Linked DNA regions of Homo sapiens: region 2 is linked to region 1. The links come from fine-mapping of genetic effects on gene expression. A gene starts in region 1. The other region holds a variant in brackets. All regions are shown on one strand. Distances are from middle to middle.

Region 1 (9,988 bases):
CCTCCCAAAGTGCTAGGATTGTAGGCATCAGCCACTGCACCCAGACTAGCTCACTTAATTCTAATAATAATAATTTAAAAAACCCTGGGTGCTAAAATATCTGTTTACAGATGAAGAAATGGAGGCATATAGAGGTAAAGTAACTCATCTAGAGTCACACAGTAAGGGTTAGAGCAGTTTGGCTCCAGAGATCACTTCTTTAATTCCTATGACATATGCTGGAGTATAGATGGTTGAGTATGTCTGGACTATAGGGTAACAAGTTGGCAAGGAACGTCAGATATCAAGTTGATGAAAGAGGCAGTAGCCTGCTGGGAGCAGTGGCTCACGCCTGTAATCCCCAGCACTCTGAGAGGCCAAGACAGGTGGATCACCTGAGGTCAGGGGTTTGAGACCAGCCTTACCAACATGGTGAAACCCTATCTCTACTAAAAATACAAAAATTAGCTAGGTATGGTGGTGCACATCTGTAATCCCAGCCACTCGGGAGGCTGAGGCACAAGAATCGCTTGAACCTGGGAGGGGGAGGTTGCAGTGAGCTGAGATCATGCCACTGCCCTCCAGCCTGGGTGACTAAAAGAAAAGGAGAGGAGGCAGTAGCCAAATCACACAGATTCAGCGTGAGTACCTTGAAGAGAGGCTCTTAGGAGACTTTAGGTAAATATTTTAAAGTACTTGAATGTATATATAAATGATTGCTAATGAATGTGATTGTATTCTGGATATCCATATCCAGATTTACACAAGCCACATTTCCAGTGGTGATTAACTGCCTCAACAGATTCCTATAGGATCCCTTAACCTATCAAGAGGGATATCAAGAGCCAATTCCCTGTCATTAACTATGAGATCCAAGAGCTCAAAAGGCAACTTTTCCAAGAGGGAGGAGGTGCAGGCCCAGTTAGAGGGAAGAGGCTAAGGGTGTCCCCACTCTTGATCCTCTACCCACACGACATCCACATTCACAACAGGGATCTCTCCTCTCTAAGGACTCACAAAACAAACATCAAGGCCCCTTTCTTCTTCAGCTAAAGCAGTATAGCCAAGCAGGAAATTGATGGGTCCTCCCCAACCCCCATCACATATACGCACATACCAACCCAGAAGGCTGGTGCTTCCCTCTTACAGCTGTCCCTGCAGCTGTCTGGGACTTTTTAAAGAGAGCTTTCCAAAAATCTTCCAGGGAGACTTGGGTGACTCCAGTAATCTCTCTGCACAGAAGGTGCCTTTGATTTTTGAGAATGACATTTCTGTCATCCCATCCTATACAGAGCTGCTACATCTTTTAAAACCTTGGTCTCTGATGTCCATAGCCACTGGGTTGGTAGGCAGAAAGTTCCCATCTCTGCATCCACCTGACCTGACCTCAGGCAGCCCCCAGCAAACTGAGATAGATCCTTGTGGGAGATGGCACCAGGGAAGAGCCACATCTCCAGTGTGGCCTATGCACCAGCTTGCTGTGATATGCCTGGGCCACTTCCTTTTCTGGCAGGGTCATAGAGGACCTTCTGCTTCTACCCACCACTTCCTACATTGAGAAGGTGAAGGAGAAACTGGTAAGATTATAATTATTTTTAATAGAGTTTTAAAAACATGAAGTCAGGCCGGGTGCGGTGGCTCATGCTTGTAATTCCAGCACTTTGGGAGGCCGAGGGGGGCAGATCACCTGATGTTGGGAGTTCGAGACCAGCCTGACTAACATGCCGAAACCCTGTCTCTACTAAAAATAAAAAATAAATAAATAAATAAATAAATAGCCAGGCGTGGTTGCGCATGCCTGTAATTCCAGCTACTTGGGAGGCTGAGGCAGGAGAATCACTTGAGCCCAGGAGGCAGAAGTTGCGGTGAGCCGAGATTACACCATTGCACTCCACTCCAGCCTGGGCAACAATAACAACAACAAAAAAACCCACATGACGTCTACTTTGCTTCTGCTGGTAGAGACCCTTGATTTGTACAGAAGTGGTTAACCAGGGCTCAACCATAATGACAGACCTTCCTAGCCTAGAATTTGTGTATCAGTTTGAACCCACTTCTTGTTTTGAATAATTATTAAATTCTTTGTCCACTTACCATTTGTCATCCATTGTGACAACAGCTTTATTTATTTATTTATTTATTTTATTTATTTTTTGAGATAGAGTCTCTCTTTGTCGCCAAGACTGGAGTGCAGTAGCACAATTATGGCTCACTAAGGGATCAACTTTCAGGACTCAATCGATCCTCCTGACTCAGCCTCCCGAGTAGCTGGAACTACAGGCATGTGTCCCCACACCTGGCTAATTTTTAAAATTTTCTGTAGAGATGAGGCTTCCACTATGTTGCCCAGGTTGGTCTCGAACTCCTGGGCTCGAGTAATCTGCCCACCTTGGCCTCTCAAAGTATTGGGATTACAGGCGTCAGCCACCATGCCCAGCCCCCAACAGCCTTATTTACATGTACTATTTTGTTAAATCCTCAAATGACATAAATTCTTTTCTATTCCTACTTTACACACCAGAAAACTAGGGATTAAAAAATTGCTAACTGAGTTGGGCATGGTGGCATGCGCCTGCAGTCCCAGCTACTTGGGAGGCTGAGTGGGAGGATTGCTTGAGCAATCTAGGCTTCAGTGGTCTAGGCTTCAGTGAAGGGTGATCACATCACTGCACTCCAGCCTGGGTGACAGAGTGAGACTCTGTCTGTAGAAACATTAAATTAAATAAATTTTTTTGGAAAAAGAGTTAACTAATTGGTCCAAGATCAAACAGCTGGCAATTGATCTGTGATTCAAAGCCAAGTGGGTCTAACTTAACTTCTATACTAAGATGCTTCCTTCAGGGGGGCCAGCAGGCTCTCTGTAAAGGAAAATGCCAGACATAACACTGTGATTGACAGGGCCCAAAAGACTTATGTGTCAGAAAGATTGCCATCCCAGTCGGCAGAGAAAATAGCATGTCAGAGTCCCACATTTGGAAAATTGAATTCCTTAGGCTTTATATCAAGTCTGGGATCACCTGTCCTAAATATCTGAATTATTTTCATAAGAGACACCGAGCAGTATAAGAAACCTCATTAAGCCTTTGCAGATCCTCCTAGTTTATATCACTCTCCCCTGGTCCCGTTCCTTTCTCATGCATTCTTTTTTTTTTTAAGACAGAGTCTCACTCCATTGCTCAGGCTGGAATGCAATGGTGTGATCTTGGCTCACTGCAACCTCTGCCCCCCGGGATCAAGCGATTTTCCTGCCTCAGCCTCCGAGTAGCTGGGACTACAGGCACCTGCCACCATGCCTGGCTAAGTTTTGTATTTTTAGTAGAGACGGGGTTTCACCATGTTGGCCAGGCTGGTCTCAAACTCGACCTCAGGTGATCCATCTGCCTCGGCCTCCCAAAGTGCTGGGATTACAGACATGAGCCACCGTGCCTGGCCTAATTTTTAGTTTTAGTAGAGCAGAGGTCTCACTTTGTTGTCCAGGCTGGTCTTGAACTCCTGGGCCAAAGGGATCTTTCCCCCTTGGCTTCTCAAAGTGCTGGGATTACAGGCGTGAGCCACCGTGCCTGGCCTGACACCCTTTTTAAGCTCCCCACAAGCCTCCCCAACTGAACTGACTTTTGCCACATCTGAAACTCCACAGGACTTTACGCCTCTCTTAGGGCTCTTTTCTACACATTACAAGATTGATACTCATTTAAATAGTTGCTGGCGCTCACTTTTAGATTTGAATTCAACATTAATAGGCATAGGCCAAGGGTTCTACTAGCGAGAATTTAGACTAGAACCCATATTTAACATTTATTAACAAATACTTATTGAGTGTCTGCTACATGTCTGGTACTCTTATGGAAGCTGGAGATAAAGGGGTGGACAAGACAATGTCCCTGTCCTCATGGAGTTCACATGTATTTTCTTCCACAAGTCTTCCTAAATTGGATAAATTAGGAATTTTTTTTCAACTCAATAAGTGTGGGGTGCCTAGAGGCAGCAGTTTTTGGAGGTGACAAAAATACACACACACACACACACACACTTTTAAATTCAACAAGTATTTATTGGGTATAACATGTGCTAGGCTATGTGTTCACCACTAGGAATTTAACAGTGAGCCAGACACCAGTGGTTTCTTTTTCTTTCTCATAATAGCTTTATTGTGATATAATACACATACCATACAATTCACCAGTGTAAAGTGTACAATTTAATGGTTTTGAGTATATTCACATAGTTGTAGAACTAGCATCCCCTAAAAGAAACTCCATACCCATTAGCAGCCACTCCCCATTTTCCCCAACTCTCCCAGCCCTAGGCAACCACTGATTTCCATCTCTGTGGATTTGTCTATTCTAGATATTTCACCTAAATGGAATCATGCAATGCTTTGTCTTTTGTGACTGGATCCTTTCACTAAATCTGTTTCAAGGGTCATTCATGTTGTAGTATTTCCTTTTGTTGCCAGATTAATATTCCATTGTACCAGCGGAATTATTAGTACATTATTCCAATATACCACATTTATTTATCCCTTCATTAGTTGATAAACATTTCAGTTATTTCCACTTTTTAGCTATTATGAATAATGCTGCTGTGAACATTCATGTACAAGTTTTTGTGTGGACAAACGTTTTCAATTTTCTTGGGTATATACCTAGCAGTGGAATTGCTGGTTAATATGGTGATTCCATCTTTAACCTTTTTTTGTTTGTGTGTTTTGAGATAGGGTCTCACTTTGTCGCCCAGGTTGGAGTGCAGTGGCACGATCTCGGCTCACCGCAAACTCTGCCTCCTGGGTTCAAGCGATTCTCCTGCCTCAGCCTCCCCAGTAGCTGAGATTACAGGTGCCCACCACCACACCCGCCTAATTTTTGTATCTTTAGTAAAGACGGGTTTTCACCATGTTGGCCAGGCTAGTCTGGAACTCCTGACCTCAGGTGATCTGCCTGCCTCAGCCTCCCAAAGTGCTGGGATTACAGGCATGAGCCACTGCAGACGGCACATCTTTAACCTTTTGAGCAACTGCAGCTATTTCCCAAAGTGGCTGCACCATTTTACATTCCCACCAGCAGTATATGAGGGTTCCAATTTCTTCACATCTTCCCCTAAACTTATTATTATTTGTCTTTTTTATTACAGCCATCCTCCAATAAATTCAAGTTTTTATTTTGGAATGACTTTCCATTTAAAGAATTTCGAGGATACTACAAAGAGTTCCAGTATATCCTTCATTCATCTTTCCCTAATGGGAGAGAAGGATTATTTTGAAAAAAAAAAAAAAAAAAAAAAAAGAGAGAGAAATGATACCAAGTAATCCAGCTTTAGTCTTTGTTGACTGAAGTGCGTATTAGGAGCTTTGGCCAGTCAAAGCAAAAGGTAGCGAAAAGATAGTCACTTCAAGGTGTCCAAGTTAAGAAAACCAGGAGGTAGAATTCAAGGAGACCATGTCAAATCCTGTCAGCAAAGTCAAGGTCAGAAAGGAAGCCACTTCCTAACGACCCACACCACTGGTGGTCTCATCACGCTGTTGCACCATTTGGATGTTTTCTAATTCTCCCGGGCTGTTTTCTCTCCAATTGGACTGTAAACTCCTGGCAGGCTCAGGCAGTGCTCGGAAGGTCTCTCACACGGTCCAACCTTACGCGAAAAGCACTTATTGAAAGCACCTCGATGGCCGGGCGCGGTGGCTCACGACTGTAATCCCAGCACTTTGGGACGCCAAGGCGGGCGGATCACCTGAGCTCAAGAGTTCGAGACCAGCCTGGCCAACATAGTGAAACCCTGTCTCTACTAAAAATACAAAAATTAGCCAGGTTTGGTGGCGCGCGCCTGTAGTCCCAGCTACTTGGGAGCCTGAGGCAGGAGAATCGCCTGAACCCGCGAGGCGGAGGTTGCAGTGAGCTGAGATTGCGCCACTGCACTCCAGCCTGGGCGACACAGTGAGAAAGAAAGGAAAGAGAGAAAGAGAAAGAAAAAGAGAAAGAGACAGACAGACAGAAAGTAAGCAAGCAAGCAAGCAAGCACCTCAACAGAGACAGAGACGTAAAGAAAGAGAGACAGAGACAGAAAGAAAGAAAGCACCTCCTCAGCTTCCCATAGCGCAGGAGACTTGCTCGACCAGAGAACCTACGGTCAGACGACACATCCACTGCCACACCCATACCCAAGCCGGGACGCGGAACCGCTTCTACCCGCCCACACCGGAGAGGTTGCTCGCGATTGGCCGGGCGGGCACAGAGGCCCGCCTTCCGAAGGTGGCAGAGCAGCCTCCCCAACTAAGCCTGGGTCGCCGCCTCGGTGAAGGGCCGCGGGGCCGAGCGCGGGAAGTGGCGTCCAGTCGGTTTTTGGCAGGCGAGAGCCAGAGCGTGAGAACCCTCCCACGGCGAGGCCAAGCCCTGAGACTGGACTAGCAAGGTCGTGAGTCTCTCTGTCAGCTCTCCGCAGCGAAGGGGCGCGGGGGGCGGGGACCGTGCCCGACCGTGCCAGCTCCCGCCCCGGAAGCGGAAGTGCAAGCACTGCGGGGTCCTGTCCAGTGTGAGCCCGACCCGAGCTCCAGTAGTTCCGCCCGCTGGTCATCGCGCCCTTTCCCCTGCCGGTGTCCTGCTCGCCGTCCCCGCCATGCTGTCTCTAGACTTTTTGGACGATGTGCGGCGGATGAACAAGCGGCAGGTGAGCTTGTCCGTCCTCTTTTTCTCCTGGCTCTTCTTGTCCCTTCGAGGCTGCTGCTGCGGGGCCCGGCGGACCCCAGGGTTCTGGTGTGAGGGTCTGAGCTGGTCTGATACCCGGGTCATTCGCTTTCTTTGGAGACTGTGGCCAGAGGCCGCCTTGTCCGCCTCATTATTTTTAACCCCGAACTGATTCAGGGCCTACCGGGGGCGGGGCGGGAAGCGGTGTCTTCACGTTCCATTCCTCCCACTGAGGCAGGGGAGCAAATGGAAACCGTACGCGCTTGAAGTGGGAGTTGGGGTTGCTTATTGTTTTAGTCATTTTAAGGCGGCGGACTCTTGATTTCTCCAGTCGGAGCGACTCCAGGTGGTTTCGGGAGAGACGAGGTTTAGCCGGTTTCTGGGGCGCTCAGGAAGGCGATTGGAGGCCCCACAAAAACCGTTTTGCTGCTTTCAGCTCCTTGCAACCCTTTAGTAGAGCTGAACCGTAGCGGGCTGCACCGACTTTGACTTGGACCACTCTGGGCTCCGAGTTGGAACAGTTACACTACTTGCCCTTGCGTCCGCTTAGCACTAAGGCGGCAGCCCTCGGAATCTATGGTTTTACAGTCCAATATCAGTGCCACGGGGATCTGGAAATGTAGGTCTCCTGATTTTGTCCTTACACTTTACTTTGATCTTCTAGATCGTATGCCAAATAGTACTGAGAATATTGTTGTAATTATTTAGTCCTTAGAAAAGGTTGTTCTGTTTTATCTTTTGCGCCTAGTGTGTCTGTAGAGCCTAGTTTTGCTGCATCGGACTTTTTTTTTGTTTTAAACAGTATTTTACTGTTATGATTATCCTGATGTCACCATTAAGGATTTTTTTTCCTTGGACTTGCATTTTTTGTACTTATAACTGCCACTTAGGGAAGTAGATACACAACCTTTCCTTACTCCCCTTCAGGCCTTAGCTAGCTCAGTGTCAATTCTGTCAGTCAGAATTGAGCATTCTATAAAAATTGCGCAAACGTTACTTTATGTCTTTATGACAACACTTCAAATTTTTACTTGTATAGTGTTGTCTTTTTTTAATCCATATTTGGATTTCTAGATGCCACAGATATTTCTCTGAGGAAAGTATTTATTTTGAGTCTGATATTTATTGTACTCTATGCTAGGTACAATGAGAGAAATGCAAAGATAGTTAAGAAAGACTCGGCCTTCAAGGAGCCTAAATGTGTAGAAAAGGACTAAGGCAAAACAATAACTTTTTTGAGCTCTTGCCATGTGTGAAGCACTTTATACACCTGTAAGGTAGGTAACGTTGTTCTTATTAAACATGAAGAAAATGAGACTTTGTGAGAAGCAATACAGTATAGAAGTTAAGAATATGGACTCTAAAGCTAGATTTCAGAGGTTTGAAGTAGCTCTGCTACTTACTGGCTGTGTGACTTTGAGCAGATTACTTAACCTGTCTGTGCCTATGTTTACTTTTATTGTTGTAAAAAGATATGCAACATAAAATATTCCATTTCAACCGTTTTTACGTGTATACTTCACTGACATTAGTTGCATTCACTATGTTGTGCAAACGTAGGGTCGCTATGAAGATTAAATGAGTTAATTCATATAAAGCCCTCAGAAGAGTGTCTGGCACATGGTGAGTATTGGCTGTACTGTGGTCGATGTCATTGTTAGAGAGCTTTAGTGATTTGCTTAAGACAGAAGGTAGACTGGGTGCGGTGGCTCACGCCTGTAATCCCAGCACTTTGGGAGGCTGAGGCAGGCGGATCACAATGTCAAGAGATTGAGACCATCCTGGCCAACATGGTGAAACCCCCTCTCTACTAAAAATACAGATACTAGCTGGGCCTGTTGGCGCACGCCTGTAGTTCCAGCTACTCAGGAGGCTGAGGCAGGGGAATCGCCTGGGAGGTGGAGATTGCAGTGAGCTGAGATCGTGCCACCGCACTCCAGCCTGGTGACAGAGTGAGACTCCGTCTCAAAAAAAAAAAAAAAAAAAAAAGAAGGTATATGGCAGGATGTGGATTTGATCTCAGGTCTTACTTTAAAGCCTGAACACTTGGATAAAGAAGGATATGACCTGTTCTAGCAGTGGTAGGAAAATTTTGAGAGGTTCCAGTCAGGGCATTACGAACAGCTTCAAGGAGAAACTAGCATTTAAGTTGGATCTTGAAAGACCTTAATAGCTTCATCTTTAACCTGGGTTGGTTAGCATTCCAATAATCAAAAGGGAAGGAATTCACTCAGCACTTGCAAACCTGCTAGATAGGCTCTAAAGCATAGAGATATATAAGGTACTCTTCCTGCTCTAATAAAATGGACAGGAAGAAAGAACAGAAACATGAAGATACAATGAATAGGCTACTCTGCCCTGTGTTTCTCTAATATGGAGTGATTGTGGTTCAGAATTCATTGCATCTAGGACATTCAGGGTTAGTGGAAGTTTAAATGGTAAAATTATCCTCCCTGGCCTCCCAGAGGTTGTTAGGAATGGATAGGAGGGATTGGATAACATGGGGTGAGGGAGAGTTATGAAATGAGATCTTTATCTGTACATAATATCTAGGAGGAAGAATTGACAATACATGTAGATACTGAGAATCAGACGAAAGAGGGAAACTAGAATTTTGTTTTATTCCTCTAAAAGTTGCTATTATTTGCATAACTTCTCTGCTTATACCTAATTACATATTACATATATGTTAAATGTCTGATTGCTTTGAGTTTTTGTTTTTTTTTTCTTATCAGATCCACAGAGGAATACTTTAGTAAATGAACTCCATCCATTTAAAGTGTACCATTTGATAAGTGTTTTTTTTTTTTTTTTGAGACGGAGTCTCACTCTGTTGCCCAGGCTGGAGTGCAGTAGTGCAATCTTGACTCACTGCAAGCTCCACCTCCCAGGTTCACGCCATTCTCCTGCCTCAGCCTCCCAAGTAGCTGGGACTACAGGCACCCGCCACCACACCCGGCTAATTTTTTGTATTTTTAGTAGAGACAGGGTTTCACCATGGTCTTGATCTCCTGACCTTGTGATCCGCCTGCCTCGGCCTTCCAAAATGCTAGGATTACAGGCGTGAGCCACTGCTCCCGGCCGGCCGATAAGTTTTTATACTTACGTATACTGATCACAATCAAGATATAGAACGTATATATCACCTACAAGACCCGTTCTGTCCCACCTCTAATGTGCTTTTTGTCAGTATAGAGGGGTATGCATTTTATATAAATGGAATCATAGAGTATGTATTCTTTGGAGTTTTAATCAGTTTTTAGGCTGGACGCAGTGGCTCATGCCTGTAATCCAGCACTTTGGGAGGCCGAGCAGGTGGATTGCCTGAGCTC
Region 2 (8,000 bases), 29 kb after region 1:
CAGTTAGCTCACATTATTTATCTTATCTGATTTTGTAATATTTTTTGCCTTTTTCCACGTGTTCTGAATTTTCTTTATTTGAAATTGAAATGCCGTCTGGTGTTTTATCTGTTTATTCAAGTCACAGAATTTTAGAGTTTGTTGGAGTACTGGAAATTTAGTAAGAAGGCTGACCTTCAAGTCTTGACTATGTGACTGATAAGCTTAGGACTTGGTGAAGTCTCCTCTTTTCGAGACAGTTTCCTTAACTGTAAAATGAGAAGGTAGAGTTAAATGTCATTAACTATTCCCATGATTATCAAGGGATAAGTATAGTAGAAAAGTAATAGAGGGCCGGGTGTGGTGACTCACGCCTGTAATCCCAGCCCTTTAGGAGGTGGAGGTGGGCAGATCATTTGAGGTCAAGAGTTCGAGACCAGCCTGATCAACATGGTGAAACCCAGTTTCTACTAAAAATTCAAAAAAATTAGCTGGGCGTGATGACGCATGCCTGTAGTCCCAGCGACTCGGGAGGCTGAGGCAGGAGAATTTCTTGAACCCAGGAGACAGAGGTTGCAGTGAGCTGAGATGGCACCACTGTACTCCAGCCTGGGTGACTGAGCAAGAGCGAGGCTCCATCTCAAAAAAAAAAAAAAAAAGAAAAAGAAAAAGTAATAGAGGAGTTCAGAAGCAGAGACAGATTACTCTTGGCTGGTAAGTAGCATGAGTGATAAATTTAAGCTGAATGATTATGGAGCCCAAATGAAATAACTTGTGTGAAATGTTCTTAAAATAATATGGTGTTATATAAATGTAACTGATGTTTTACCAAACAAAATGGAGCAGGGTGCTTTGGGTGAAAGAAGGGGGGCCTGTTTTGATCTGCTGATGGCATAATTATTATAATGTATTAAAGAATGTCTCAGAACTGTAGTTGTCCTAATAGTACTGCTTGAAACTTTCAAATTGTTACTGCTTTCAGTTGCTTTCCGAAGTGGGGATAATGGTGGATCTGATCTCTTCTGTTTTGTTCTTGCAGCTCTATTATCAAGTCCTAAATTTTGGAATGATTGTCTCATCGGCACTAATGATCTGGAAGGGGTTAATGGTAATAACTGGAAGTGAAAGTCCGATTGTAGTGGTGCTCAGGTAACAGTTTTTCCTTTCAAGGCATGGAATTGCATGGCATTACTTGGGAGAAAAATTGAGATATGAAATAACTGGCATATCATTCTCTTAGAAACTACTCTTTTCCAGAAAAGGGCCTGGAAGAAAATTAGTCACTACTTATCAGTTGTAAGAAATTCTCAGGCTGGGCACGGTGGCTTATGCCTGTAATCCCACCAATTTGGGATGCTGAGGCCGGTGGATTACTTGAGCTATGGAATTTGAGACTAGCTTGGGCAACGTGGTGAAACCCTGTCTCCACAAAAAATACAAAAATTAGCGGGTGTGGTGGCATGGACCTGTAGTCTCAGCTACTCGGGAGGCTGAGGTGGGAGGATCACCTAAGCCCTAGAGGTTGAGGCCTGCAGTGAGTTGTGATTGCACCACTGCACTTCAGCCTGGGTGACAGAGCGAGACCCTGTCTCCAAAAAAAAAAAAAAAAAGAGAGAAAAGAAATTCTTACTTTGTTAGGCATTTCCATTCAGAACTCCAAAGGGCTCATGACCTTTCTACAAAAAAGTTACCATGTTAAGGTTTGTTTTTGTCACATCCCTTAATAAAGTGTCTCGTTGTACTTTATTTTCCTGAAATTCTTCTGTCTTTTTATATTCCTCATTTTGATACACCAGGCCTGATATTTAGTTGTTAGTTCATTAGATGTTATAGTACTTCCACAAATTAAGAGTTTTTCTGTAGCATGTTCTCAATGTCAGGATAGAATCATCACTAATTATTTCCAAGTTTCCTGCTGACCTTTAAATATCACTTCTAAACTAGACTCCAGGAATTTTGAAGGCATTAATACCATCTCTTATGGTGACAAATAGTACTGAATTTTTTTTCTCCACTCTGCTTCCTTCCCTATCTTTGCACTCATACTCTTAGTGAATATTTTTTTTAAAGATGGGGTCTCGCTCTGTTACCCAGGATAGAGTGCAGTGGCGCCGTCATAACTCACTGCAGACTCCACCTACCGGTCTCAAGGGATCCTTCCATTTTAGCCTCCTGAGCAGGTGGGACTGCAGGCCTGCCCCACCATGCCTGGTTAATTTTTTAATTTTTTTGTAGAGACGGTGTATTAGTCCATTTTCATGCTGCTGATAAAGACGTACCCAAGACTGGGCAATTTACGAAAGAAAGAGGTTTACTGGACTTACAGTTCCACGTGACTGGGGAGGCCCCACAATCATGGCAGAAGGTGAAAGGCAGGTCTCACATGGCGGCAGACAAGAGAAGAGAGCTTTTGCAGGGGAACTCCCCTTTTTAAAACCATCAGATCTCGTGAGACTTATTCACTGTTACTAGAACAGCACAGGAAAAACCTGCCCCATGATTCAGTTACCTCCTGCTGGGTCCCTCCCAAAACACGTGGGAATTCAAGATGAGATTTGGGTGGGGACACAGCCAAACCGTAGCAGATAGGATCTCACTGTGTTGCCCAGTCTGGTCTTGAACTCCTGGGTTCAAGGATCCTCCCACCTTGGCCTCCCAACATGCTGGGATTACAAGCATGAGCCACCATGCGCAACCACTCTTAGTGATTTTAAAACCTAATTTAGTAACTCATTTTTAGAGAATTACCACTTGGTTGTTTGACTGAAACATTATAGGCTGGGTGTGGTGGCTCACACCTGTAATCCCAGCACTTTGGAAGGCCAAGGCGGGCAGATCACTTGAGGCTAGGAGTTCGAGACCAGCCTGGCCAGCATGTTGAAACCCCATCTCTACTAAAAATACAAAAATTAGCTGGGCGTGGTGGCAGGCGCCTGTAGTCCCAGCTACTCAGGAGGCTGAGGCAGGAGAATTGCTTGAACCTAGGAGGCGGAGATTGCAGTGAGCGGAGATCGCTCCATTGCACTCCAGCCTGGGTGACAATTGAAATTTTGTCTCAAAAAAAAAAAAAAAAAGAAAGAAAAGAAACATTACAGTTTTGTCATATTTTGGGCTTAATTTTGTAAGCCCAGATCTTTTCTGGAGATAATGGAGTGCATATTTAAAATAAATGGAATTATTAATATTATCTAGAATCTAAATAATAGTGCATTAACATTATCTAGAACCTAAGTAATAGTACTTAGATTACTCTTTTTTAACCAAATTATCGAGATATGATTGACATACAAAAAGCTGTACATATTTAATGTATACAACTTGATCAATTTGCAGGTAAGTATATTCCTGTGAAACCATCATCACAATCAAGCAAGTGAATATATTCATCACTTTCAAAAGTTTCTTCCCTTTCTATTTTTTTGTGATAAGAACATTTAACACAGGGCCTCCCTCCATCGCCCAGACTGGAGTGTGCCATCACACTTGGCTAATTTTTTTTTTACAGAGACTGAGTCTTGAACTCCTGATCTCAAGTGATCCTCCCCCCTCAACCTCCCAAGTGCTGGGATGATAGGCTTGAACCATCGTGCCTGGCCCCCAGTTTCTTTTCTTTTCTTTTTTTTCTTTTCTTCTTCTTCTTTTTTTTTTTTTT[TTG/G]AGACAGAGTCTCACTGTATTGCCCAGGCTGGAGTGCAATGGCGCAATCTCAGCCCATTCAACCTCCACCTCCTGGGTTCAAGTGATTCTTCTGCGTCAGCCTCCTGAGTAGCTGGGATTACAGGCGTGCGCCACCATGCTCACCTAATTTTTGTATTTTTAGTTGAGACTGGGTTTCACTGTGTTGATCAGGCTGGTCACGAACTCCTGACCTCAGGTCACCTGCCCACCTCGGCCTCCCGAAGTGCTGGAATTACAGGTGTGAGCCACCGCACCTGGCTGAGATTTTTTAAAAGTCCCTCAGGTCATTCCAATGTGCAGCAAAATTTGAGACCCACTGCCATATCCCTTTACATAGAGGGAAGAGAGTCTTTAAACAAAAGTGTTTGGAGTTTGTACTTATTCCTGCGTTGAACTTTATTTCTTGTCTTTCTATTCTTACTTAAGCTGTTGTTATAGAAAACCGGAGCTTGAGTTTCTGAAAAAGACTGATGGGCTACTTCTTTATAGATAAAAAGGGGTTCATAAATTAGTGCAAATATCTTAGGACCTTTTCAGCACTTGGCGTAGGATGGAAGAGGTAAGAGGTAAGAAGATACTCTGTAGAAGTTAGTCTTACTTGTTACCATGGAATTGAATCTTTTCCTGGCTTCGGAAATTCTTAGGCAAAAATCTCTGCTTATTCCTTGGTTTTCTTTTTTTCTCTTTTTAAAATAAGTAAATTGATAACACAAGCTTTATCTCTGTAGCTGGCTGTTCCTTGACTTGATGAGCCATTTTTCCTTCTAAATGAGTTGAACATATAAGGTCATCTTGGCTGTTATCTTTATAAATGGCAGAGGAAGATGATCCAGTTCTCATTTGCATATCTGAATATGTTTAGTGTTTTCAGATGAAGTGAGAATAAGGGCATTGTTTTAAAGTTCATTCTTTTATATTCTGTTTGTCATTTGAAATTTTAAAAGGTTAAGGAATTAGTAACACTGACCTTTTCAAGATTTAAGCTTCTTTGACTAGTGATACTTGAAATGGAACTAGTTAGTGAAGGTTAATAACTAAAAAAAAATCCTTTGGCGTAACTTTTTAGTCTGAGGAAACCATATTTTGAGAACAATACACATTTCTGTTGATATAGTTGTTAGGGTATTGAGTATACTCCCAAAGTGATATTTTTTATTTTGTTGAATATCTAATTTTGAAAGTACATTTAATCTCATACTTTCTTTTTGCTGTTATATTCTTCTTTCCCTTCCAGTGGCAGCATGGAACCTGCATTTCATAGAGGAGATCTTCTCTTTCTAACAAATCGAGTTGAAGATCCCATACGAGTGGGAGAAATTGTTGTTTTTAGGATAGAAGGAAGAGAGATTCCTATAGTTCACCGAGTCTTGAAGATTCATGAAAAGTATGTGCAAAGTATAGCATCTTTGTTTCTAAGTGCTTTTGTTTAAGTGTTTGTGGTATTTAGTTTTGATAGCCTAAAGATTGTAAAACAGTGAGGAACCTCTAGGCCTTCTTCCAGTCCATTTTTATGAATGCTGGAAAGTTTAGTGAACATTTTGAAAACTGTAAATAATTATTTATTAGTTCATTTCTTTCCCTGAAGGTTTTTCCAGAGGTTTTTCTTTGTTCCCTTTTACTTCCCAACCTGTCAGTGACTCTGTATATAATTCCAAAAAACTATGACATAAAGATAGATCCTAAATAGAATCTTCTGGTTGGGCACAGTGGCTCACGCCTACAATCCCAGTACTTTGGGAGGCCAAGGTGAGAGAATGGCTTGAGCTCAGGAGTTTGAGGTCAGCCTGGGCAACATGGTGAGACTCCTTCTCTATTAAAACAAAACAAAACCAAAAAAGGCCAGGCATGGTAGCTCACGCCTGTAATCCCAGCACTTTGGGAGGCCGAGGTGGGTGGATCACCTGAGGTCAGGAGTTCGAGACCAGCCTGGCTAACATCGTGAAACCCTGTCTCTACTAAAATATAAAAATTAGCCAGGTGTGGTGGTGGGCGCCTGTAATCCCAGCTACTTGGGAGGCTGAGGCAGGCGAATTGCATGAACCTGGGAGGTGGAGGTTGCAGTGAGCCAAGATTGCAGCACTGCACTCCAGCCTGGGCGACAGAGCCAGACTCCATCTCAAAAAATAAATAAATAAATAAATAATTAGCTGGGCGTAGTGGCATGTGCCTGTAGTCCCAGCTAATTGGAGGACTGAGGTGGGAGGATTGTGTGAGCCCAGGAGTTTGAGGCTGCAGTGAGTCGTGTTTGTGCCACTGCACTCCAGCCTGGGCGACCGAGTGAGACCCTGTCTCAAAAAAGAAAAAAGAAAGAAATGAAAGAAAAGGGAGGCATCCTGTATGACACACAGACGAGAAGTGAAAGAGTAGGCATGATTTCGGTTCTTTTTTTGTTTGTTTTTTGAGACAGTTTCCCTCTGTTACCCAGGCTGGAATGCAGTGGCGCTATCTCGGCTCACTGCAACCTCCACCTCCCAGGCTCAAGTGATTCTCATGCCTCAGCCTTCTGAGTAGCTGGGATTACAGGCATGTGCCACCATGCCCAGCTAATTTTTGTATTTTTAGTAGAGACAGGGTTTCACCTTGTTGGCTAGGCTAGTCTCGAACCCCTGGCCTCAAGTGATCCGCCTGCCTTGGCCTCCCAAAGTGCTGGGATTACAGGCATGAGCCATTGCACCTGGTGGATTTCAGTTCTTGAAAGAAGAGGAAACTGTCAACCATTGCTTTTTGAAATTCCTATAAACATTCTAGTTTAGAAGAGTTCTTTCTTCATTGGTGAAATAAAGATATGACTGCTTATTTTTTTTTAATAAAATCAGATATCAGTATGTATGTGGAAATACTATAATTTAAAGTGACATTATATTATTGACTGGGAAGGAATAACTTAAATTTTTAGAAATTGTTTGGGGCCGGGAGCAGTGGCTCATGCCTGTAATCTCAGCACTTTGGGAGGCTGAGGCGGGCAGATCACCTGAGCTCAGGAGTTCAAGACCAGCCTTGCCAACATGGCAAAACCCATCTCTACTAGAAGTATAAAAATTAGCCAGGCGTGGTGGTGGGCACCTGTAACTCCAGCTACTCAGGAGGCTAAGGCAGGAGAATCACTTGAACCTGGGAGGCTAAGGTTGCAGTGAGCTGAGATCACGCCACTGCATTCCAGCCTGAATGACAGAGTGAGACTCCATCTCAAAAAAAAAAAAAAAAAAAAAAAGAAATTTATTTTGGAATTACAGAGGTTTATTCAGCATGGATAGTGTTTTCCAGATTCTGAAAGTGGATTTGTGTTGTTCATTCTCAGCAATGCCTGTTGTGAACAAAGCTGAACCAACTTTCCCCTAAATATATCAGAGAGAATCAAATTAAGCTCAGGCCTTGTTTAAGCTGGAGGAAAATTTCTCCATTTTAATTTGTGATCCTTTGAAATTGAGTGAGTTTGGCTGGGTGTGGTGACTCATGCCTGTAATCCCAGCCCTTTGGGAGGCTGAGGCGGGTGGAGTGCTTGAGCGCAGGAGCTCTAGACCAGCCTGGGCGTCTAGACCAGATGGTGAAACCCTGTCTCTACAAATAAAAAAAAAAAAAAAAAATGAGTCAGGCACGGTGGTGTGCACTTGTAGTCCCAGCTGCTCAAGAGGCTGAGGTAGGAGGATCACTTGAGCCCAGGAGGTTGAGGCTGCAGTGAGCCGAGATCATGCCACTTTATTCTATCCTGGGCAACAGAGTGAGACTGTATCTCAAAAAAAGAAAAAAGAAAAGAAAAAGAAATTGAATGAGTCATAGACTTAAGTTTAAAACTGCTTCTGGGCAGATTCATAGACAGAGAATATATTAATTGGAAAATCCTTAAATTTTTAAAATAATTTTGTACAGAATTCTGATGATTTTAAATATGGTACTTGTAATCTGGGGTTTTTGGTGATTTATTTCAGACTCTTGAGATACCTTCAACTTGCAGGCCTGTGTAGATAACAGACCCTGTTAATATTCAGAAATTTTCAATTTTCTTTTTTTCTTTTGGGGAGACTGAAATATCTGGTCAGGATTACCATTTGGGTTTTTTTTGTTTTTTGTTTTTTCTTTTGAGACGGAGTCTCGCTCTTTCGCCCAGGCTGGAGTTCATGGTGCGAGTTTGGCTCACTGCAACCTCTGCCTTCTGGGTTCAAGCAATTCTCCTGCCTCAGCCTCCCAAGTAGCTGGGACTACAGGCGCCTGCCACCACGCCCAGCTAATTTTTGTATTTTTAGTAGAGGCAGGGTTTCACCATGTTGGCCAGACTGGTCTTGAACTCCGGACCTCAAATGATTCACCCACCTCTGCCTCCCAAAGTGCAGAGATTACAGGCATGACCC

Direction of the effects. Positions count from the first base shown, and alleles are read on the strand shown. Sizes are in standard deviations (SD) of each study's normalised expression.
As copies of TTG replace G in region 2, the expression in monocytes after Pam3CSK4 of the gene that starts at base 6,525 in region 1 goes down (large effect, 0.88 SD a copy in Quach 2016).

Evidence for each region. PIP is the estimated chance that this variant, and not a neighbour inherited with it, causes the effect.
Region 2: its variant is the best candidate, but not a certain one, in a credible set for the expression of SEC11A in monocytes after Pam3CSK4 (Quach 2016, PIP 0.87).

Annotation. Positions count from the first base shown.
Region 1 is chr15:84,712,676-84,722,663 of GRCh38, reverse strand. SEC11A (SEC11 homolog A, signal peptidase complex subunit) reads left to right here and starts at 6,525. Exons shown (of 6, transcript NM_014300.4): 1 at 6,525-6,639. The coding sequence starts at 6,589. RefSeq lists enhancers at 5,177-5,740, 5,862-5,971, 5,992-6,111, 5,741-6,306, 6,782-6,851 and 1 more.
Region 2 is chr15:84,684,663-84,692,662 of GRCh38, reverse strand. SEC11A (SEC11 homolog A, signal peptidase complex subunit) reads left to right here. Exons shown (of 6, transcript NM_014300.4): 2 at 1,019-1,128; 3 at 4,889-5,038. Among named protein-coding and RNA genes, the nearest start is that of SEC11A, 27 kb to the left of the region's middle. RefSeq lists an enhancer at 5,676-6,175. The variant TTG/G (reference allele first, on the strand shown) is at 3,632.